4 linked regions of the Homo sapiens genome follow. The protein of the gene in region 2 purifies or fractionates together with the protein of the main gene of each other region. This does not show direct contact. Each region holds a gene or a part of one and is shown on either strand. Other genes may lie near its edges. The genes, in order: STMN2, TRPC5, SEC24B and STMN4.

The links.
Region 1: the proteins of TRPC5 (region 2) and STMN2 purify together in Homo sapiens (affinity purification with western blotting, with the first as the bait; one study listed by BioGRID). This does not show direct contact.
Region 3: the proteins of TRPC5 (region 2) and SEC24B purify together in Homo sapiens (affinity purification with mass spectrometry; one large-scale study listed by BioGRID and IntAct). This does not show direct contact.
Region 4: the proteins of TRPC5 (region 2) and STMN4 purify together in Homo sapiens (affinity purification with western blotting, with the first as the bait; one study listed by BioGRID). This does not show direct contact.

What each region holds. Positions count from the first base shown.
Region 1 is NC_000008.11:79,647,647-79,653,428, forward strand, and holds part of STMN2 (stathmin-2), read left to right. Parts: intron 1-5,782. UniProt on the Homo sapiens protein: Regulator of microtubule stability. When phosphorylated by MAPK8, stabilizes microtubules and consequently controls neurite length in cortical neurons.
Region 2 is NC_000023.11:111,766,768-111,773,315, reverse strand, and holds the end of TRPC5 (short transient receptor potential channel 5), read left to right. Parts: 3' UTR 1-5,305; downstream 5,306-6,548. UniProt on the Homo sapiens protein: Forms a receptor-activated non-selective calcium permeant cation channel. Mediates calcium-dependent phosphatidylserine externalization and apoptosis in neurons via its association with PLSCR1.
Region 3 is NC_000004.12:109,523,183-109,528,964, forward strand, and holds part of SEC24B (protein transport protein Sec24B), read left to right. Parts: intron 1-1,635; coding exon 1,636-1,759; intron 1,760-2,163; coding exon 2,164-2,322; intron 2,323-3,043; coding exon 3,044-3,217; intron 3,218-4,139; coding exon 4,140-4,250; intron 4,251-5,782. UniProt on the Homo sapiens protein: Component of the coat protein complex II (COPII) which promotes the formation of transport vesicles from the endoplasmic reticulum (ER).
Region 4 is NC_000008.11:27,240,183-27,245,964, reverse strand, and holds part of STMN4 (stathmin-4), read left to right. Parts: intron 1-1,239; exon of another isoform or gene 1,240-1,375; intron 1,376-2,163; 5' UTR 2,164-2,241; coding exon 2,242-2,254; intron 2,255-3,472; coding exon 3,473-3,568; intron 3,569-4,207; coding exon 4,208-4,288; intron 4,289-4,702; coding exon 4,703-4,911; intron 4,912-5,782. UniProt on the Homo sapiens protein: Exhibits microtubule-destabilizing activity.

The sequences.
Region 1 (5,782 bases), on a different chromosome or scaffold from region 2:
CTCCTTTGAACCAGAATTAGTGCTCCAGTGATTAGATAATAGAAGAAGCTTGTCATAAAAAGAATAAGCCCTTTCCCTGCTTTTTCTCCATTCTTTGATTATCGCTGGTAGTCAGTGATGATCATCTCTATGAGTCTATATCAATCTCATCAGGTCAGTTTGAACCTCATCTCTTGAAATCAAAGTTTCCATAATGCAACTGACCCACAAGGGTGAAATGACATGAATGCTTTAACCATCCATTTATCATTTATTCATTCATTCAACCAACATGTATTTAGCAAGAGGCAGCAGAGTTAGCATAACTATACATCCCAGTTGGCCCAGGACAACTCCAGCTAACTCTCGTTGTTTTGATACCATTATTAATTATTTCTCTTTACTCTCATAAGTGTTCCACTTTGGACAATCAATTACATGAGCATCCTTAGCAGGGCACAGTGTTTAAGGGCATCTTTAAAATATTGTCTTTAAGAACATGTGGTTAAGAGAATGTCTGTGTTCAAATCCTGGTTCCACCACTTAAAAGCTGTGTGACCTCAAGCAAGTGACTTAATCTCCGTATGTCCTCCTTTGTCAATCTGTAAAATGAGACTAGTAATAGAACTTATGGAGTTAGTGTGAGAATTGGAAGGTTACTCTACAATAAAGACATATAACCAGCATGGTAAAAGGGTTAGCAATTACTATGTGAAGAAGCATCCAGTTTCTGACCTCACAGAGATTATCTAGCAAACTCATGATTTTATAAAGAAAAGAAGTTTCTCATCAACAGAGACTGAAATGCTACCATACAATATACGTTGCTTTTTTTTTTTTTTTTTTTTTGAGACGGAGTCTCGCTCTGCCACTCAGGCTCAGGCTGGAGTGCAGTGTTGCCACCTTGGCTAATTGCAACCTCCACCTCCCAGGTTCAAGCAATTCTCCTGCCTCAGTCTCCCAAGTAGCTGGGATTATAGGCACCCACCACCACACCCAGCTAATTTTTATATTTTTAGTAGAGACAAGGTTTTGTCATGTTGGCCAGACTGGTCTCAAACTCCTGACCTCAGGTGATCCACCCACCTCAGCCTTCCGAAGTGCTGGCATTACAGGCATGAGCCACCATGCCCGGCCAATATTTTTAAATATTATAAAATATTCTTTATCAAATTGCATAGAAGAAAAGACAGTTTGATAGGTAATAGATATATAAATAGGTCAGGCCAACTAAAAGTGTCCTGAAAAAATTAATATTGTGAAAACAAAAGGATTTTAATGACATTGATAAAATCTCACCCTAAAAGAGATTAAATTAAAAATCACCCTACTTGAACCAGTTCAGTGAGATTTCATTAGCATGCTCTCATTACTGGCATAATCAGCTTCAAAGTCACTAAGCCTCTGAAAGGAAGATGTGTTGCTTATTCTTAATAAAATGGCATAAAAGTAGATCATTAGTCACCAAACATGATAGACTTACCTTTTCCATTTGTTGGCATCTCACATTGTAGATGGCAATTAAAATGGAATCCAGGGAAAGAGGGGGTGGTTTGTATAGCAATGGATTATGAAACAAAGTACTGGATTATTCACCGCTTGACATTCAGGAAACATTCTGCTCCTTACAGAATATGGCACGTGGGCCACAGAATCTTCCGTGTGCTACCTTCTCGGTGAAGAAGAGCACCCCCAAGTTTCTTTTCCTAGGAGCTAACCACAGTAAACCCATTACACACTTTAGCAGAAGGGCTCATTCTAAAGGTCTTAGGATTTTAATCATTTTAAATTTCCTGTTATGCTTCAGGCTCTTCAACACAAAGTGAATATTGTACTCTTTGGTTTTACATAATTATATTCAATTGTCATATTTCAACAGGACATTATTTGTGACTTTAGATGGGTCAATAATGATTTTCATTGTCAGCAGTAAAGTCAATAATTACAGACACATCACCTACCCTACTTGTGTAAAAGCATTTTTTGGTACTAGGAGATTTAGTGTCTGATCAACGGTCCTGGATAGCAAGTAATATATCCCCCAAATAATGAAAAGTGACAAGAAAATAAATATGTTTACTTCAGAAATAAATGGAAAATTAGTGCTATCTAAAATGTAGTCTTAAGTCTCATCTGTGTACATAAAGTAAAATGAGTTTTATGTACTAGTTACTCAAATTTATCTTCCACTCCATTTGTATAGTAATTAAACTCTTACACTCAGTAATATACAAATTGGTAATTAACCTCTTTGCAAAATGTTAAAGTGTTCCTAAATGTACAATAAGTCTCCTTTCCTGTCTCATTGTTTTTCGCTTCACGTACCTCTCATGTAATTATTTCAATGATTGAGTTCAGTGTGAGGAGGTTTATGCCTAGAAAAGGTGCTCACCAATAACGTGCCTCAGTTCCCATAATAGCAAGATCGAGAAGGTTCTTTAGTCTCCCGGAACGTCACGTTGAACATCTCAGTTCTATATTTTGCCTTGACATTTGCATTATATCAGCTGATCATTGTCTTGCCCTAATTTTCCCTTTTAATATTTTAGTGACCTTCTATGTTAGGTACAGGTTATTTAGAAGTGTTCCTCCAAGGCCAGATACTTTTTCCTTGAACAATTTATTTTTAACAACTTTTAGCGATTTTCTCACTTCACCACCCTCCGTTTCATAAGTCCACGCAATCACAATTCCTTTCTGCTAATCTGCACAGTCAAGATATAAAGTAAGAATACCTATTTGAACATGTAGTGAGAACTTTACTTCTCTGCCAAAAATGAAGGAAAATGCTGCCACTTTTGTATGTCACATGTTTTTTATTCTACAGCCTCACTCACTTCATGTCATGTTTTAGTGCAGTTTTCTGGACTAACTGCTTATTTTCTCATTGATTAAACTGCCTATTTGCTCATTGGAATTAGAGCCAATTTTTTTCCTTGAGGGTCTGACTAGAAGATTAAACTATGTTCATGTGAGAATCAATTTCTACCTAAGAAATGAGTTAGAGGAGTTATGGGCAGCAATATCTATCTGGATGCTACACTGTGAAAAAGGAAGCGAGGTTATGCCTTTCTACCCCAATGGGGTAGCAGAGACCTCAGGAACTGAGGTAGATGCCCCCCTGGTTATTAGCGCCCCTGAATAATTTGTTCAAAAATTGACTGCTGGACAGGTGTCGTGTTGCACGCCTGTAGTCCCAGCTGTGCAGGAGGCTGAGGCAAGAGGATCTCTTGAGCCCAGGAATTTGAGGCTATAGTAAACTAAGGTCACACCACTATACTCCAGCCTGAGCAACAAAGCAAGACCCTGTCTCTAAATTTAAAAAAAAATATTGAATGCTTATGAATAGAGACTAATATAGGAAGTCATAAGTATTTCCTTGGGATAGAATGCTTTCCACCATAATTGACTTGACATCCTGTATTTTTGTATGTGTGGACTTAAGTTTTAAATATTTGAAACACAGACAATTATTAAGTCCTGCAAATGTGTGAGTTAATAGTGGATATAACATTCCCTTCCAGGGTGTAAGAAAAGGTACCACAGAAGTGAGCAGCCCTGAAGCACAGCCTGGCCTAGTTTGGCAGGTCTCTGTGAGTTAGCAGCAGACTCACGTGACCACACTCTGTACTGCCTTCTGTTTCTGTTTCACCCCATTAATTGTGCTAAAGAAATGCACTTGACACCTATGCTGTGTAATCTCATTTAGCCCCAATAGCAACAAAAGTACTAACCCCATTAAATTGAGTCATTTCAAACTGAGCCAAATGTTGCACTCCAGTAAATGGAGTAGGCATTGGTTATAATGGGAATTCTCCATTATTCATAATGGAAACCACAGGAGTTTGTTCATGCAGATCAAATGTGTCCCACCAAGGCAAGAAGTATGGAAAAGTGGTGTTGCTGTATTACCTTGTAATTTCAAAGCCTTCCCGTCTGAATCTTATTTCCCTGCTGTTTCCTCTTGACTTTGGTTCTTTCACAAAGGAAAATTAAGAACACAAATATAAACATTAAGTTAAAACACAACTGAACAAAGTGCCAAACTTAATTGGAGCATCTGAAAATGAAACATTAGGCAGTTGCAGTGGCCTCTTGATAATAATTCACAGTAACTCTCTGTAAGCTGATCCTGTCTGAAGAGCAGCAGGCACAAGGCCCCTGGCCATGAAGTCCATCTCAAAGGGCCAGGCTCAGCAAAGCAGGATGCAAACCCAGGCTTTCCAAATACCAGGTTGGGGCTCATGTCACTGTGCCACAGGAGCTTCTGTAGAAAGGCTACTTGAAAAAAGTGGCCATTAAAAATCCAGGTGGATCCTATCTAGGGCAGTGTTGGAAACACTGATCTATGGGAGGAGGAGCAGGAAGGAATTGTTTAACCACTGAGCAGAAATGTTACATTGCTACCTGCCTTTAGCAGCTGTGGCTGATGGGTACCAGTTGCTAAGAAGAGCATTACCTAACAGTGTATTAAGATAGAAAAATGATTTTAAAGCACGGCACTTAGAGAATGTTGAAGTTTTACTTTGCTTTATTTTGATTTGTTTGGTTTGACTTTGTCTCCTGGAGCATCCTCCATGGATTTCTGTTCATTACAAGAGAAACCTAGGGCTCTAACCCAATTCCTAATTCTTGGACACATTGCACCCTTGTTTTGTGATAATCCAGCCTTCTTCCTTGAGAAGGTTTGCTGGACTGGAGGTTACATGTATTGAATTTTCTAAAATGAAGGTGCAAAGCTGTCTCCTCTTATTTCTTTGTGGTGCTCACTTCACTGTGAGATTTCCTATCAATACAGCCCAAGTCAGTGGGCATGCATGAGGTGGAGATGAGGGAGTTAGGAAGGACTTGGACTCTCATCAACCATCAGGATCCCTGAATCCACTAACTGTTCATAATCAAAGAAGTTTGAACAAATACTTCACACACATGAAATTGCCAAAATTTTGCATTTGAGTTGTTATACCAGTAAGTCCAGTTGCCATCATCTCCTTGTCACAAGTGTCTTAAATTTTGCTTTTGATAATAATGATTACCACTCATTCAGTACTAACTTACTTGATATTAGACACTGCATTAAATACCTTGCAAACATTATTTTGTTTGATCCTGACAACCATATGAGATAGGTACTATTCTTATCCATTACCAAAAAAATTAATTTCATGAAGACTTTTCCCAGAGAGAGAAACTTTAAATATTTACACACACACCTCTCTCCCTGTAACAATTCCGTAGTCCTGATAACAGCAAATAAGCAAAGTCTGTGTAGGATGCTTTACCAACAGTCCCACCTAGAGGCAGGAGAGTGAACCAGCTAGAAAATATTTTATTCATATTTCTTCCAGAAAGGCTCCATTGGAGTTTGAACTCAATTTATGTTATAATTTTCTTATTATTTTTGTATTGGTTTTCCTGAAACCAATACAAAGTAAGAAAGCATTGGTTCCACTAAAAATGTCCTAAAACCAGCCAAGCACAGTGGCTCACACCTATAATCCCAGTACTTTGGGAGGCCGAGGCGGGTGGATCACTTAAGCCAGGAGTTCAAGACTAGCCTGGCCAACATGACGAAACCCCATCTCTACTAAAAATACAAAAATTAGCAGGGTGTGGTAGCACACACCTGTAATCTCAGCTACTCAGGAAGCTGAGACATGAGAATCGCTTGAACCTCAGAGGCAGAGATTACAGTGAGCAGAGATCACGCCACTGTACTTCTGCCTGGGTGACAGAGCGAGACTCTATCTAAAAAAAAATAAACACATAAATAGTAAAATGTCCTGAAACCATTATGGGGTTA
Region 2 (6,548 bases):
ATTTGAATTATATTAGAAAGTGACCATTGTTGAAATATCTCCACTTCCAGCTTTATGTCCAGTGAAATACAGAGGAAAGACTAAATTTAAAATCATTTTCGGAAAATGCCAAACTTTACAGAGATATAAATGCTTCAAGTTACGCTTCTGTCTACTGACATGGAGATATTAAAAAATTCCCTGTTCTGCCTCCATCATTTTTCATTCCACTGTGACCTAACTTAGGCTATTTCAGCTAAGTCGTAAATACCTGTCTGCAATTTGATTAAATCATTTTTAAAAAACGAACGCCTCCACTTTTCAAATGACTTAATACCTTTTCCAAAAAGAACTTTATAGTTCTTATGGCAGTGCAAACCTCATCTGAAAACCTCAGTGGGAACTTTAGAGATAAATATGAGGCCAAACCTTAGCCTGAAAATACAAATGACCATTGGCATTCATGTTACATCATGGGTGAATCTCGTGTGGTGTTTTGACTAATAGTTTTAGTGCCCCAGACCTTGGTTTGTTAAATCATCAGGTAAAAAGTACTTGAAGATAGGCAGCAAATCCTTTGTTTAAAAGTACCTTAGAAAAATTGAGGCTGGGCATGGTGGCCCACTCCTGTAATCCCAGCACTTTGGGAGGCCAAAATGGGTGGTTCACTTGAGTCCAGGAGTTTGAGATCAGCCTGGCCAACATGGTGAAACCCATCTCTACTAAAAATACAAAAATTAGCTGGGCATGGTGGTACACGCCTGTAGTCCAACTACTTGAGAGGCTGAGGCATGAGAATCACTTGAACCTGGGAGGCAGAGGTTGCAGTGCACTGAGATCACACCACTGCACTCAAGCCTGGGCGGCAGAGCGAGACTGTCTCAAAAATAAATAAATAAAGGTACCTAAGAAAAATTGAGTATATTTTCTTGGTAATCAAGTTTTCAAAAGATTGCTCATATAGACATAGTCAATGCAAATTGATCCAAGTGTTCAGATCATTTAAATAACCTCTTCATACCTACTTCACAGCCCTACCTTCAATCCCTGCAGCTTTGCCTCAAAACTAAGGATATTTTAGATTGTTTCTTTGGCTTACTTTATCTAGATAATTGCTCCAAATATCCACCTTGTTGGTGTAGGACTCGGCAGTGGGATCTGAGTACCCCAAATGAATGTGAGCTTTACTTCAGCAGAGAGAAACATTGTTACCATTATATTTCCAATGAACCTTCCAGTAACTTTTTTTCCAACAGATGTGGGTTTTGGCTTGCTTTGCCTTTTGAGGGATGTCTGTAAAAGTGAGAACGTGTCTGTGTATATACATAGACACACATAACAAAACTTAACAGCATTTGATGGTTCTGCCCTTGGCCCTTTATCCCTTTAGGTAATTACTAGATCATTTTGAAGAGAGGGAAGCAAGAATAACTTTTCAATGAGACATTTCCTGAGCTGTGAGGAATTGCCAAAATGAACTGCCATGACAGCATCTTCTGTAGCACTTTTATATTGAGAGCTATCAAGATTTGAGGTTCCTGGTTTTGTTTAAAAAAAAAAAAAGCATTTAGGTCAGAATAACTTACCTGGAAGACTTAAATATACACATTTTTGGCAAAATAAAGTCAGTCTGCATACTTCAGATTTACTGTATACCTGAGATTTGGTGCATACTTGAGGTGTTAATATTCATTCATATGCTGGTACGTGGCCTAGGATTTTCATCTTTTGTGTGGTGATCCAGAGGAGGTGTTAGTGGGTGCTTTGTGAGAGCTTTACTTTTAGAAAATGTAATGTTTAAGAAACAGAGTTAACTGCTGGAATGATAGAGGCAGCAAGCCAGTGTGCTCTAGCATCTTTAGGCTCAGTATTTGTGTTATCCCCAACTTGAGTGGATTTGTATCTTGTACTTGATTACTGGATCTGAGTTGTGTTCATTCTTTTTCTAAAGATATACCATCAATGTTTGTGGTACCTGAGAGACATATACATATTAAGAATTATAATATTTAAACATAAAACTAAGTGGAATGCCCTTATGCCAAAAAGCTAGTTTTCTTATATGATGTGAAAAGATGTGAAAGCTCTAGAGGCTTCCTGTTACTACACAAATAAATGACAAACAATTTCTGTAGGAACATAAACAGCCCACAACTTTTGATCATTGAAATCAACTGTCATACATCCCTGAAAGTAGCATGTATCTGTCCTACCCTCCTCCCCCTCAAAGAACTTTCTTTATAACTCCAGTGACTTGATAGAACCAAAAAAGACTAACTGAAGTAGGTTAGAATGACTTGCAACGTGAAGGTCATTTTCACCATTTTTCAGCATATTTGCCCTTTGACTTTAGCAGGTTTTGGGGCAACCTAACATCCCAGGAGCTTACATACATACACACAAAAGGCACTGTCCTTAGTGGCACTTGAATGAATATGTGGCAGTGTGCCTTTTATTTAAGCCTAAGGTAGCCAGCCATTTGAAAGTACAATTAAGCTGGGATTGGCCATTTTGTATCTTTTCCCAGAAGTTCAATATATCCCCAAAATACTCATTGCCACCAATTGCCTTCCAACCTAGGAACCCTCTTGACAGTTCTCCGCTCTTACACAACTCTTAAAGCTGACCCTTGGAAGGAAGAAAGGAGGCTTTGGATTTTTGCTGGGATTGGGAAACTTAGATGGTGATAGTGTAGTAAAGAGACAGTTGGAAAAGCTTTTGAAGTAAGGATGAGTGAGGATATACACTTTAAAACACGGGGCTAAACCACCAAATTGTCAGTTTTTTGGATGGCCAAATTGAGATGAATAACCTGAATTAAAAATATAATTTAAAATGGTTAATTAAAACATTAGCATCATCATTTCTCCTTTAATGAAATTCAAAAAATGCAACAATATATGAAAGCAGAACTACCGGTAAATCATTTTTCAAATTTTGGGTCATATTTGGGTTAAATTTCAGATGTTAACAAGTTCTCAACCTTGGGATCACTGTAAATATAAGTTCAACACACCACACCCATAATGCAATATCACAGATGGGCTTTCATAAATATGTACACTTTAGCCAATTGGAAAGATCACTTCCTTCAAATTTTATCTAAGAAATAAAGTGGGTTTGTCAAAACAACATGAAAGAGAAATGAAAGGTAAGGAAGGGCACTATGGCAAAAAGCCAGATTATGTATCTGCTGTCATCTTTTAGCCTCATAAATTTGGAATAAACATAAAATAGGATAATGACTGATATTTTCATAAACATACCAGAACTTATGCACCCAAATGAACGTGGTCCTTTAAAGTAGTCACCTTAAAAAGCCATACCCATATTCTAATGATGCTGCCATTACTCTACCCACTTTGGACTTCTGCTTTTGAAATGACTTTCAAAGTCCACAGTACAATCTCTGAATATCCTCAATGGTAGAAAATCATGATCCTATAAGATTAAATTTTTAGGAATTTAGAAATTGCCAAAAGTAATTTTAGATCCACACTTGGTAAAACATGTGGTAGTCAAGATGAGTACCACTTTCTCTGGTTAAAAACAAACAAACGAACAAACAAAAAACATTTTCAAGTGCTACTACACAATAGGCACTTTGATAGGTGCAATTATAAAATAATGAGATTGTCTCTTGTGGGATTTGTAAGGGACCTGGAACTGTTCTTGGGAATCTAGTTTTTTTCCCCTAATTAACTTTATTGAGGAATGATTTATGTACAATTACCTGCATTCATTTAAAGTGTACAAATTGGTGAGTTTTCAGAGTTGTATATACCCCTGGAAGCACCAGCCAAAATCAAGTTATAGAATATCTCCATCACCCCCTCAAGAATGCTTGTTCTCCTTTGTATCCTGGAATCTAGTTTCAATTATGCTTGGAGCAGTGGTAGCCTTACATGAATAAGCACATAGCCTCCTGAAGAGAACACTTTAAAGAGCAATATATTTAGATAGAGAAGCTTCACTGATTTGGGAACAACCATAATGATTAACCCTTTGTGTTTAAACAGTAAAATACATTGAGTTCCAATGGCTTATGCTGTAAATAAACTCAGAATTGACTCCTCAAACTTATTTGATCCTTAAGAAATGACATTGTATAGCACAGAGGCTCTGGTGACTAGGCTGTTATCAGGGAGAGGGACAGTAAAGAAAAACCACTAACCTCCATAGAGAACAGAGGGGAGGATTTTGGACTCATAAGAACCCACGGTGGCAGAAGCAATGGAAAGAAACTCTAATAGGAAGATGGCAGCTAGCTAGCTGAATGTGTTCAGGTCATTTGAAAGTCACATATTCAGATTAAGTATTTCCTGTATAAGATCTAGTCATGGTATTTAAAGTATAGCCTCATCATGTTGTGGCCACACCTTGTAGGACCTCCTTGTAAAACATATTAAGCAATCAGTTTAAATATCCAAGGCAAAGTAACCTGTAGTCCAATAAATCAGTGATAACTGTGCTTAGTGTACGTGGGCAGGAGAAGCAGCCAGAATTCTCAAGTGTCTTAACAGGATAAGTGGGACCAATGACACCAAAATGAATATTATGTGAGCACATGAAGAGTCCTCTAAACCCAAAGGGTTAACACATTAGTCTGTGGTTTAATGTAAAAGGAAATTCAATTCGATAAATTAACTTTAAAATTAAGTGTTCAAATTACTACCTTAACAAAGTAAAAGTAAAGCTGTATCTTATCTCAACAGTAAAGACACAGACCTTCCCCAGGACACTTCAGATAAGGATAAACACATCCTTCTCAAGCAAATACATTTTAGTTTGTTTCTTATAATAGGAATGCACACCAGAGGTACTATTCAACAGAACAATAGTTAAACTCTTCACAGGATTCTATTTATTCCATATTTCTCAAAAATGGGGTTGAAATTAGGGATGGGAGTTTCTTTCTACTCAAAACAATGAATGCAGTCTGCAGCTACAAACTAACATTTGGTAGCAGGAAGGAGAATACTAGAGAATACGAGCTATGTGTAATTCACCTTCTAAGCCTAGTTGGCAGCCCCAACCACATATCACCATATAGAAAGTGTGTCAAATTTCAGTTTAAAATGATACATCTTGAGCATAATCATGAAAAGGGAAAATTCCAAATGTGTCTGTGTAAATGACACTGGCTTTGAAGACTATTTTCAAAGTGGAAATCTCTTTGAATAACTATCACTTTTATTTAAACACTTTCTGTAAGTGCACAGTGTCAATCTTAATGTATTAAAAAGAATCTTGTACAATAAAATAATTTTGTGTATTTTTAGCTTCAGTATCAACAAAATAAAGTATTTACTTTTTTCCCCTGAAATGTGTGACAACTCAGATTTTAAGGTGTTATGTTCCTCCCTTTTTCAGTGTAATCATTCGTAGCCACCTATTATTAACATTTATGAACAAAAGACTTCACAATGTAATTTGCCTAGCAGAAACACTAATGGGAGACCTCCACAGTCCAATATATTTTGAAAAGTATATGAGAATAAATATTCTGATTTTTATATCTTCCATTAAACAAAGCTGACTAGTATTTAAGAATTTAATAATAATTTATAAGAACTATGAGATGAAGTAAAGAGACCAATACAGTTTTAAAGCTATAGCTTACAACATTGAAAAACCTTAGAGGCCCAATCCTGGAAATTAATTATTCTTCATTGAGTACTTAAAAGTATGATACATATTGCATAGAACAGTTGGAATCTGTGAGACAGTGAGAAGACATATAAATGGAGGTTAAGCTGGTCATGATTAAACCAGTGTCATCTGAGGACATCTGAGCAATAATTCCAGAATCAGTTGACGTTTCTCCTTCAGCTTTTTTTGTAGTAACAGACTTTTCAGCAACTAGCTTTCTACTAATTCAGATTCCTGAAGTTTGATTGTCTTATTTTACTGATTAACTTTTACACCAGCAGGGCACTGGTTAGCATATCAGAAAAGCTTAACTTTCAGCTAAATAACTCACCTGTAAGTCCTGGCCTAATTATTTTAAGCATAAATGAGTGTACAACATTTACACACTGGTTAGATAAGCATAATTAAAATAAGCAGAAGTCACAAATGAGATAACATCTCACACCAGTTAGAATGGCAATCATTAAAAAGTCAGGAAACAACAGGTGCTGGAGAAATAGGAGCACTTTTACACTGTTGGTGGGACTGTAAACTAGTTTAACCATTGTGGAAGACAGTGTGGCGATTCCTCAAGGATCTAGAACTAGAAATACCATTTGACCCAGCCATCCCATTACTGGGTATATACCCAAAGGATTATAAATCATGCTGCTATAAAGACACATGCACACGTATGTTTATTGTGGCACTATTCACAATAGCAAAGACTTGGAACCAACCCAAATGTCCATCAATGATAGACTGGATTAAGAAAATGTGGCACATATACACCATGGAATACTATGCAGCCATAAAAAATGATGAGTTCATGTCCTTTGTAGGGACACGGATGAAGCTGGAAACCATCATTCTCAGCAAACTATCACAAGGACAAAAAACCAAATACCGCATGTTCTCACTCATAGGTGGGAATTGAA
Region 3 (5,782 bases), on a different chromosome or scaffold from region 2:
ATAATGGCCGGGTGCAGTGGCTCACACCTATAATCCCGGCACTTTGGGAGGCAAAGGTGGGTGGATCACTTGAGTTCAGGAGTTTGAGACCAGTCTGGCCAACATTGCAAAACCCCATCTCTCCTAAAAATACAAAAATTAGCTGGGTGCGGTGATGCAAGCCTGTAATCCCAGCTACTCAGATGGCTGAGGCAGGAGAATCACTTGAACCAGGGAGGCAGAGTTTGCAGCGAGCTGTGATCACTGCCACTGCACTCCAGCCTGGGCAACAGAGCGAGACCCGGTCTCAAAAAAAAAGAAAAACAATAATAATAATAACAATGAAAGGAATATACGAAGCTGAACATTACTTGGGTTTTATGTGAAGATTTGGTCAGGCATTTTTAAGCCCTATTTCAAATAATAAATGAACAAAAATATTCATTTTTCTTTTGTACAAGTTCTGTCTGGCCTTAACATATTTGAGAAAATATCATTATAAGTAGTTATGAGTATGAATTAAACAGTTTTAATAGTGTCATAAATCTTTAGCCACATATCCAGATTTGCCTTAGGATAAATTCCTAGAAGTGAAATTATTGGGTTAAAGGGCATAATCTTTAAGTTATTAAATAAAGAATGTTTTGTTTATTTGGGTTTTTTAATCAACTTCTCTTCTTAAGGACTCTCATCCTGTAACCACCATTAAGTAGCATTGCTTTTTTTATTCTTCACCAATATGCTAGAGAAAAAAAGGCACCATATTTCACCCTTTATAGAAATTGTATTTTAAAATTGCATTTGAGAAGGAAGCTAATTTTAAAATAAGTATGTATTTTAAACTCATCAACAAGTGTAGCTGGCATTTAGTTCGTTGACCCATTACAATCCATTATAAATTACTGTGGTGTTTTGAACACAGGAAGCTGATATATATTTACTGAATCCTTTGATAGAGCTTTGTTTTGATTTGTTTTGTTTTCTCATTTAACTTTCAAAAATATTCTCTATCTGTCTGCCTAGGACTCTAAAGTTTCAGTATCTGTTCTGGTTTACATATTCCTTCATATCCTTAATTCCTTATATTAGAGTAAGCTCTAATATAATCATCATACAGTGTAATTAAGAGGATTGAAACTTTTTTTTAGGAAATGTTGTATGATGATTAAGAACTTGGAGACTCTCTCCAGTGTCACCTTCTCAGCTCAAGTCTTCTCATACCAAAAGAAACACCTTCCTTAATCTTTTACTCTCTTAAGTTATTTAACAATATTTAATAATGGTTAACAGCACTCATTCTGCAGCCAGATTTCTTGGGTTGATATTCCAATATCCACTTCTCAATATCTATGTAATCTTGGTCAAGTTACTTAATCAGTTATTGCCTCAGTTTCTTCGTCTGAAAATGTAGATGATAAAAACCATATGAGATGTGTTATGAAAATTAATTTGTGTGAAACAGTGCTGGCACATAAGTGTTTTTTATAAAGATTATCTATCATTATTATTATCATAGGGAATCTGCACCAAATGCCTAGACATTTAGAAAACTCTTAGTTTGGTAGGGAGGCAGAGGATATCCTTTTTGTTATAAAAATGACATGAAAATATGAGCATAAAGATTGCTAGCTCTTACTATATGATCTGTTGACTTAGGTGGTACAACATCTTGGCCCTGCAACTGATTTTTATAAGAAACTTGCATTAGATTGCTCGGGACAGCAAACTGCAGTGGATTTGTTCCTTTTAAGTTCACAGTATTCTGATCTTGCTTCTCTAGGTAAGGAAAGTCATCATGGGTACATTTGTTTAAATGAACATTTTTAATGCATAATTAAATCTAAACTCTTCAGTAAGCATTCTCTATATTTTAGGGAGAAAAGCATGTGCATTAGATAGACAATATCTATGAAAACTACCAGTAAAGTTTAAAGCACTATACAAATATAAAATGTCACTTGTATTTTGTTTAGATAGCATGATTCCCTTACCATTCTGCTCAACAGTAAACTTTATCATATATTTTATAGATATTACTGTTTTCTCAGATTTGTATGTTCTTATTTTGATGGCTTAGGTTTTCTCATGACTTAGATTTCTTCATAATGTAGAATCTGTACTACTGTTGGACAAGTAAAATATTATTATTTCTATAGCTAATACTTTTTGTATTTCTCTCTAAAGCTTGCATGTCCAAGTATTCTGCAGGGTGCATCTATTATTATCCATCATTCCACTATACTCACAATCCTTCACAAGCAGAAAAGTTACAAAAAGACCTAAAACGGTATCTCACAAGAAAAATTGGGTTTGAAGCTGTTATGAGAATAAGGTGTACTAAAGGTATGAAGTTGTAAAAGTTATATTTTATATTAAATACTTGTATCAAAGTCAGTGAGCATTCCATGTATTGACTACCTCTGACTGTTCATGATGGAAGACTGTTTGATCTCATTAGCTATACCATGTTTTAAATAGATAATAGTTATTGAATAATCCTTGCCCAATTTTTAAAAATAACTTGAATAAGTAGACAAAAGTAATGTTTGATTTACTCAGAAGAACCTAAGAGAAAGCCTATATTAGAAATGATTTTAGAAGGAGAATTAGAGGAATAGGGAAGATCTTAAATAAGAATTGTCAAAGTAAGGGTCTTTGCCTTCATAATCATTTAATGTACACTTCCTTGGTTTTATGTGAATATTTGTTTTAATCCTTTATTTTACCTTTATTTTAAATCTAGGATGAGTTATATAATAACCCTCATTTGCTTAATTTTGTAAATTAAATGTTTAGTCAGATTATGTCTGACTTCAAGTCACATGTGAGAAAATGTAAATAAGGTTAGGTGTCAATACAAGTGAAATGTATAGTCTCCCTTTTATATAACGTCCACTAGTTTTTTTGAATTAATATTTTAGAAACTCTGCCTATGCTTGAACCTTGACTCCCCAGTTATCCTTTTGATTCAAAATCATAAACATCTTTGACTTAAAAAAGTAACTTTAGCTTGAGGTGAAGATACTATTGTTAACTTGATTTTTTATGATTTTCTCCTTTTTAGGTCTTTCAATGCACACTTTTCACGGTAACTTCTTTGTCCGTTCTACTGATTTGTTATCCCTTGCCAACATCAATCCTGATGCTGGATTTGCGGTGCAGTTGTCAATTGAAGAAAGTTTAACAGATACTTCCTTAGTATGTTTTCAAACAGCCCTATTATATACATCAAGCAAAGGTAATGTTAACAGAAATGAAATATAGTCTGCAGCAGTAATTCCTCCCTCCTTTCACATGGCCTTTAGTGGAGTGGGGAAAAAGAATGAATACACAGTGGGAAGTAATGGAATTTGTATTAGTTAATCAAACATATGTTGTTATTTTCTTTCTTTTTTTAACTCTCACTTTTGCATCTTTAAATAGCACACTTTTTTAATTTATGGAAGACTTGTATTCTTAGAATCTTGTTTCAAAACAGTTCATGCTAAATCCAGCTATGCCATTCTTTGTATTATTTCTTGCCCCAAAAAGTAAAAAACTGCTTAGCAATTAAGGCCTTCATTTGTTACTTGACAGTTAAGTTTTCTGGTATTTTACTCTATAGGATATAATTTAGAATGAGTGATATAGCGTATGTTCATACTCTGCAGATTTGGAGAGTGTTTAATTTTCTTTTAAAAATGTTCATTGTAAAACTTGGTTTTTACATCTCAAAATCCTGTTGGTGATGTAATCTAGCCAAAACAATAACTTGAATAAAAATTCGACTTGTGGCTGGATGTGGCGGTGGCTCACGCCTGTAATCCCAGCACTTTGGGAGGCCGAGGTGGGTGGATCACCTGAGGTCAGGAGTTCCAGACCAGCCTGGCCAACCTGGTGAAACCCCATCTCTACTAAAAATACAAAAATTAGCTGGGTATGGTGGCAGGCACCTGTAATCCCAGCTACTTGGGAGGCTGAGGCAGGAGAATCACTTGAACCTAGGAGACAGAAGTTGCAGTGAGCTGTGATCACACCATTGCACTCCAGCCTAAGAGACAGAGCAAGACTCCGTCTCAAAAAAAAAAAAAAGAAAGAAAGAAAGAAAAAAAGTATTTGACATGTTTGCTTTGCTTTATTTCCTTTTTGATCTAATGTATTTTCAATGACTTTTTTTTTAGGTGAGCGGAGAATTAGAGTACATACACTTTGTTTGCCAGTGGTAAGTTCACTAGCAGATGTATATGCGGGAGTGGATGTACAAGCTGCCATCTGCCTTCTGGCAAACATGGGTGAGTAAAAATTGAAGGAACATGTGAAATGTATTTTTCTATCTTAAAAACTGAAGCTTGGCTGGTGGCAGTGCGTCCGCCTGTAATCCCAGCATTTTGGGAGGCTGAGGCGGACGGACCACGAGGTCAGGAGTTTGAGACCAGGCTGGCCAACATGGTGAAACCCCATCTCTACTAAAAATACGAAAAAATAGCCGAGCGTGGTGGCAGGCGCCTGTAATCGCAGCTTCTCAGGAGACTGAGACAGGAGAATTGCTTGAACCTGAGAGGCGGACGTTGCAGTGAGCCGAGACCGCATCACTCCAATCACTCCACTCCAGCTTGGGCAACAGAGTGAGACTCTGTCTCAAAAAAAAAAAGAAAGAAAGAAACTGAAGCTAGGATTTTCTCTTATTTAAAAAGCATATGTTTTACATTTTTATTTACTGCATTGTGAATCAGACTGTCCTCACATTTCTTCCTTAATCTTACTTTCAAAATCTTTGAGGGAATTCATAATCTCTAAAAATGTGGTAAAAACTGAAATGTCCTTCAAATAATATATGCACAATCCATGGTACACTCATACAATAGAATATAATGCAGCAATAAAAAGGAATGAACTGTCAATACTTAAACAAACATGGATGCCTCTCAAAGACATTGTGCTGAATAAAAGAAGCTAGACTCAAAAAGCTGCATAGGCCAGGTGTGGTGGCTCATGCCTGTAATGAGCTCATTCCAGGTGGGCTCATTCCCAACACTTTGGGAAGCTGAAGTGGGCGGATCACTTGAGGTGAGGAGTTCAAGACCAGCCTGGCCAACATGGTGAAACCCTGTCTCTACTAAAAATACAAGAAAAAAATTAGCTGGGCGTGGTGCTGCACCCCTGTAATCCCAACTACTTGGGAGGTTGAGGCAGGAAAATCCTTTGAACCCAGGAGGCAGAGGTTGCAGTGAGCCGAGCCGAGGTCTCGCCACTGTACTCCTGCCTGAGTGACAGCGTGAGACTGCATCTCAAAAAAAAAAAAAAAAAGCTACATACAAATGATTCTATATAAATGACATTCAGGGAAAGGGAAAATTATCAAATGGTGACTAATTGGGATTGAGACTGAGGGAGGGTTTTACTGCAAAGGGGCAAGTATAGGGGGATAATTTTGTAGTGATGGAACTATTGTGTATCCTGATTGTGGTAGAGATTACATGGCTATGCATTTGACACATAACCACTATAGAACTGTACTTAAACTAATTATATGTAAGTCTAAAAAAATCCTTTTGAGAATTAACATAGCACTTAAATGTTTTCAATGAATTTGCCTTGTAGATGAACTTAGACATGAAACAAGCCTTGCTATTTCCCATGTAGTCCTAGAGAAAGAGAGTTATTAATACTAATTTGGGAAAAATTATAATAGCATTTACCGAAGGATCCAAATTTTTTTAAATAACAGAAGCATTTAATCAGTCCTGGTGTGGTGGCCCATGCCTGTAATCCCAGTACTTGGGAGGCTGAAGCAAGTGGATCACTTAACTTCAGGAGTTCAAGA
Region 4 (5,782 bases), on a different chromosome or scaffold from region 2:
GTTCTTCATCTGAAAGCAAAGCTGATGATGCCTGTCTTGTCAGCCTAAGCCAGCTTCATGCAAAGTTAGACTAGGATAATGTGGTGGGTGTCGAGTGCCCCCTGAGCACAGGGTCCTATCATCATTTCTAGCTCGGGCTGGAGGCACATTCCATAACTCCAACTGCCTGCTCCTACTCCATCTGCCTTCTTTCTCAGGCATCCCTCTCTGCCTCCCCTCCACCTATTCAGGCTTCCACTTCTGATCCTTTCCCCAGGTAGAAGTCCAAGGCCACTGCCACTCTGGCAAGGGCTTACTAACTCTGCCAGTGACTTGTCAGTCAGCCTGGCCATGAGCAGAGACTGCGGGATGGGGTGTCATGACCAGGGAAGTCGCATGCAGGCACCAGGCCTGCCTCTCTGTTCAGGGACTCACTGGTGCCGTCAGGACCAGCTTAGTTCTGCAGAGAGAAGACCCATTGTGCTGCAATGACAGGGGCCTCTGGCTCCAAAGCACAACAACAAGAACAAGGAGAACAAAGCAGTTTAAGTCCAGCTGGACCTCGGTTCAAATGGGCACTCTAACTTGCTAGCTGCATTGCCCTGAGCAGGCACATAAACCCTCTGAGCCTCAGTTTCCCCATCCGCACATGGCAACAACAGTCCTTACTTGTGGGTCCAGAGGTAATGGCTCTGAAGCAGGCATGTGGCACCTGATAGCTGTCCTGATGCAAAAGACAGGGCAAAGAGACTAACATTTATTCAGTGCTTCCTGTCTGCTGGATGCTATGCATGGGTTTTTCTCATTTAATTTGTACAGCTCTGTGCAGGATTAAGATGGAGAAAGAGACTAGCGAGAGCTGGTAAGAGAGGTGATACTTGTATTTGACCCCACACTGGTCTAGCCCTAAAGCCAGAGCTGAGTTCACTGCCCCATTACCTCCTCCTGCCAGTCTCCAGCCAGCACAGAAAGGCAAGGGGTTTGAAGTGGGTCTCAGAGTCTCTTTGGCTGGCAAGGATGTAGGCAGTGAGCCTGCTGGCTCTCGCCACCCTCCCCTGGCACAGTGACCACAGAGGGTGACCGAGGATCAAATGGTCCTGAGGATGGCCACTCACTGCTGGCTGCTCCTCACTCTCTTTGTAGTAGCCTTCATGGGCTCCCATCACCTCCACCCCTCTGATCCTCCCAGATCTGCTCCTTCCCTGACTCTCCTGTTTTGTCTCCTGCCCCGCCCCCTCCTCTTTCCACTTTCTGATCTAGCGTCAACTAGCTTGACCTGATCCCACGGACACTGAGTGGCGTTCTCACCCCGACCCTTGGCCGTGATGTTCCCTTGCACAATGCCCTCCTGCCAGCTCCTGTCTGATTCTAACTCATCCTTCAAGGCACTGCTCAGGTGCTACCGACACCAGGGACACCTCCCAGGCTCCCTGGCAAATGCTGGGGGTGTGGAGCCCTATTTCTGTGTCCCACAGCAATTCCTCATGCTGATTTCTGGTGGTGTGGAGCCCTATCTCTGTGTCCCACAGCAATTCCTCACGCTGATTTCTGGTGGTGTGCTGGCTGGCCCTGTGATGACGACATGATTCCTTAATGTTTTTCTTTCCTGTGTCCCGGATTGTCTTAAATAGGGTCAAACACAGCTTAGGTCAGTCGTCTTGGGAAAGGGAAGGTGAGAGGCATCTGAAGAGGCCTGTTAACATCCTATGTCCAATTCCCTCTCTTCCCATATCAGAATTGGCCCAAAGACTTCTGGGGCATGTGCGGGGAGAAGTCCAGGACACACAGTTATTTTATGAATGCCTCCCAGCTGATTCTGCAGGAGGATTTGCTTCTCACCCTAACCCTTGAATTGGGCCAGGTTCTTGAGCTATGGAGGGAGACAGATGAGCACCCCTTGATCCATACGTTTTTGGGAAACCCACGCTTGCATGTGCTAGGGGGCTTGAGACTGGAAAGCCAATTATGAAGTATCATTAGTTCATGGAATCTGAGCTTGTTTAGCATCATTGTGGGAGGGAGGTCGGGGTAGGGGACCCCCAGGGAGAGTTGGTGGGGAGAGGGCCTGGAGGAAGAGCAAATGAGGTACCCCTGAGATTCCCTCCCCAGTGTATAAAGACCTTTCTTATGAGAATAACCTGTCTAATCCATCGATGGTAAAATCCTGTCCTCCCCTTTTCTCAGGTTGGTGACAGCGTCCCAAGCTGGTGACAGACCCACTCTGTAACTTTCAGCTAGATTCAGCCACCAGATCCCAGAAACATGACCCTTGCTGGTAGGTACAAAAACCATGTGTTAAGGGGCGTAGGCTATTCCCCCTGCCCTCACCCAACATGGACTCACAGAAGCAGGGAAGAACACAGCTGGCAGGAAGCACACGGGGTGTGTGGGGGGGTGCAGGTAGTGATGGGAGGCTTGGGGGCATGCAGGCAGTGGCGGGAGGCACACCACTGCCTGTCACCACAGGCGACAAGTTGAACAAGTGGTGGGGGGTGTGTCACAGCTGAGATTTTCTTCCTTTTGCTCATCTGTATATGTGTGTTTTTTTTTAAGTTTTTATGATGCCTATATATTATTTTTGCAGTTACACGTATTTTCAAATCTGTAAAAGGAAGCCAGGTATAGTGGCATATGCCTATAGTCCCCAGTATCAGGAGTCTGAGGCACAAGGATCGCTTGAGCCCAGGAGTTTGAGTCCAGCCTGGGCAACATATTGAGACCCTCATCTCAACAAAAAATTGTACAAGCAAATGAGGATGGGGGCAACACCTGCGCTGTGCTAGGGGTCAGCTAAGGGCTGCAACCTGAGCAGCCAGACACACGGGCCCCAAGGCGGTGAGGAGAGGGACTTTCAGGAGCCAGGACAGCTCTGGCCCCTGACATCCCAAACACAGATAGACTAGAGGGTGGCGGGGATATGCTCCAGCTTTTGGGGACACCAGCGACCCCCAGGCTCTGTGCACTGTGTTGGAAAGGTCAGAGAAGGCTTATAGCCTGACCTTGTGAGGGGCAGACCAGAGGGATGGTGGTGAGGACGGTCCCCTCCTATCCAGCTCCTTAACCCTGCAGGCCAGCGCTGCCAGGTATTTGGAGTAGAATGGAGTGTGGGTCTCCTGTGTCCTGGAGAAAAAGAATCGGAATGTCCTGGGGCAGATGTTGGGGGATGGAGAGCTGAGGCACTGGTGCTTGGGACCTTTCCATGAGGGCATTTTGCTTTCTGGTCTGGAAGGGGAGGAGACATACTGTGGAGAAGGATCTGATGCTCTGGAAGGCTTAGGTTTCCACAGGAGACAGGAGTGGGTTCGAATCCCACACAGGGATCCTGAACAGCACGGCTCAGGGCGAAAGGCCTGGATCCCCAGGCTTGGCGTGTGCCTGCGTGGTTTGAGTGCCTTTATGGAACCCTGGGCTGCTCAGAGCCCCAGACCCGTGAGGACGCTGACTTCTGAGGCTAGGAGAGGCGCCATCCTCACCTGACTGGGTGTTTCCGCAGCCTACAAAGAGAAGATGAAGGAGCTCCCGCTGGTGTCCTTGTTCTGCTCCTGCTTCCTGGCCGATCCCCTGAATAAGTCGTCCTACAAATATGAAGGTCAGTGAAGGCTCAGCCAGGAAAGTGAGGGGCGGGGGGGCCCTGTGTCCTGTCCTCATAGGTCCTGCACCCCGACCCCAGTCCCGTGAATCTCTCCTCCCGAGACAGTTTCCTTCCCAGTGCCGATGAAATCACAGCGGGTGAGCCCGAGGGTCTGAGCTGCAGTGGTCCAGCCTGGGCACTAGGGGGAGGCCATGAAGGTCTGCATCAGGCGCCCCCCAGAGTGCACTCGATCTTGTCACCTCTGTGCATGCATCCAGCAAATCGAGACTGGGGGGTATGCAAAGGTGAGCCAGACAGATATTCTACCTGTGGGGAACATCTAGACCAGAAGAGAAGATGAGACGATGTGAGTCAGTTTCCAGGTCAACAGGTCTCCTCTGGGAAGGGTAGAGAATGCTCTGGGAGAGTCCAGAGGTGGGAAGAGGAGGTTCTGTGGCAGCCATGCTGTGTGGGGCCTGTAGCCGGGACAGCCCCAAGACACCAGCAGGGAGCACTGGGTGGCCACGTCCTCACCAGGGGTGCTCGGGGACCAGGTCACCTCCTAATGTCCTGGTTAGAAGCAGAGATGGGTTTGGTTTGGTCTGGCACCAAGGAACAGGCATGCTCGGATGACCTGAGGTTGTTTTTTCTGTCTAGGCTGGTGTGGGAGACAGTGTAGGAGGAAGGATGAAAGCCAGCGGAAAGACAGTGCTGACTGGAGAGAAAGAAGAGCTCAGGGTAGGAGGGAGGCAGCGGAGGGATTCCGCAGGCCGAGCGTCAGATGGGCTGTGGCCGGGGGTGGGCGGGGGCTGAAACGCACCCCTGCCTGTCACCACGGACGACAAATTGAGCAGCTCAGCAGTCAGAGGAGGCTGGTGGGGGAAGCAAAGGCAAAAGCAGCCAGTGTCGTAGGAAATCACATTGCCTGGGGCCCCCTATTCTTGCAGGCTGAAGCCTCACTGTTGCTACAAACTCCTTCAGCCCCGTCAGAGGCCATTGCCCTTAGGTACTAGGGTGTAGGACTAAGCCAGACCCCAGTCTCCAGCTTGCTTGGGGCCCCAGTTCTCCCACTCCCGTGTGCATGCGCCGCATGCTTGCTGGGTGCCTGTGCATTCTTCAGGACGTGAGCAGCCCCTTCTCTGCCCTCTGTAGCAGACACGGTGGACCTGAATTGGTGCGTCATTTCCGACATGGAAGTCATCGAGCTGAACAAATGCACCTCGGGCCAATCCTTTGAAGTCATCCTGAAGCCACCCTCCTTTGATGGGGTTCCCGAGTTCAACGCCTCCCTGCCAAGGCGGCGAGACCCATCCCTGGAAGAGATCCAGAAGAAACTAGAAGCGGCTGAGGAGCGAAGGAAGGTAAATGCTGACCCTTCCTTCTTTCCTCCCTCTCAGCATAAAGGGGAGGGAGGTGGAGAAGACAGGTGGTGGACCTGAGCTGGGATAAGCTCATCACCAATCTGCAATATTTAGGGAGCATCTCCCGAGTGTGCGGTGGAGAATGAGACACCATTGAGGGAAACAAAGAACTAAACACCCTTGGCCTCTTGCAGCTCACAGTTTGGTTAGGGGGATAGGACATTGCTATGTTCCTCCAAGAGGTGGCCCTATATGCATGGTGGCAAAAATAAGACTGACAAATACTAAGGATTTAGGGAAAGGCTAGGGAATTAAGGAAAGAGCTTCTTCGTTGGAGGAGGGAGAGAAGATCATGGTGTAGTGCATCTCGAGGCCCGGGATGCCTTCTATGGATTCTCATGGCTTGATTCTGATACCGTCTTCTATGTGTAACTTTTCTTTATCTTTCAAAAAGAAAATAATCCCCTATCATGAATTCCTTCAGTGCATCCTGTCTACACCTTAGGGCATATGTCTACACTAGTCTGGATTTTAGTGATGTATATATGTCTTACCTCTGTGAGACTTTTTTTTACCCCAAGCTGTTAGACCAGTGCCTGGCACATAGTATAAGATCATTTAGTGTTTGTGAATGAATGAATGAATGATGGCAATGAGCAAAAGGGCCATGAAGGTATTTAGGAAAAGGCTGGGAAAAAAAATCAAAGAATGTGGAAGGCTCTGAAAGTGGTGGGGGGAATTTAGGAAGTGTCCTTGTTTCCTGCTAATGGTCTGGGGACCAGGCCCAGGGAGGTGAGTGTTCTGAGTGTGCAGCTTTTCAGCCACGATGGTGAAAATAAACCCTGGCACACTCACTGTGAAGGGCCTCCTT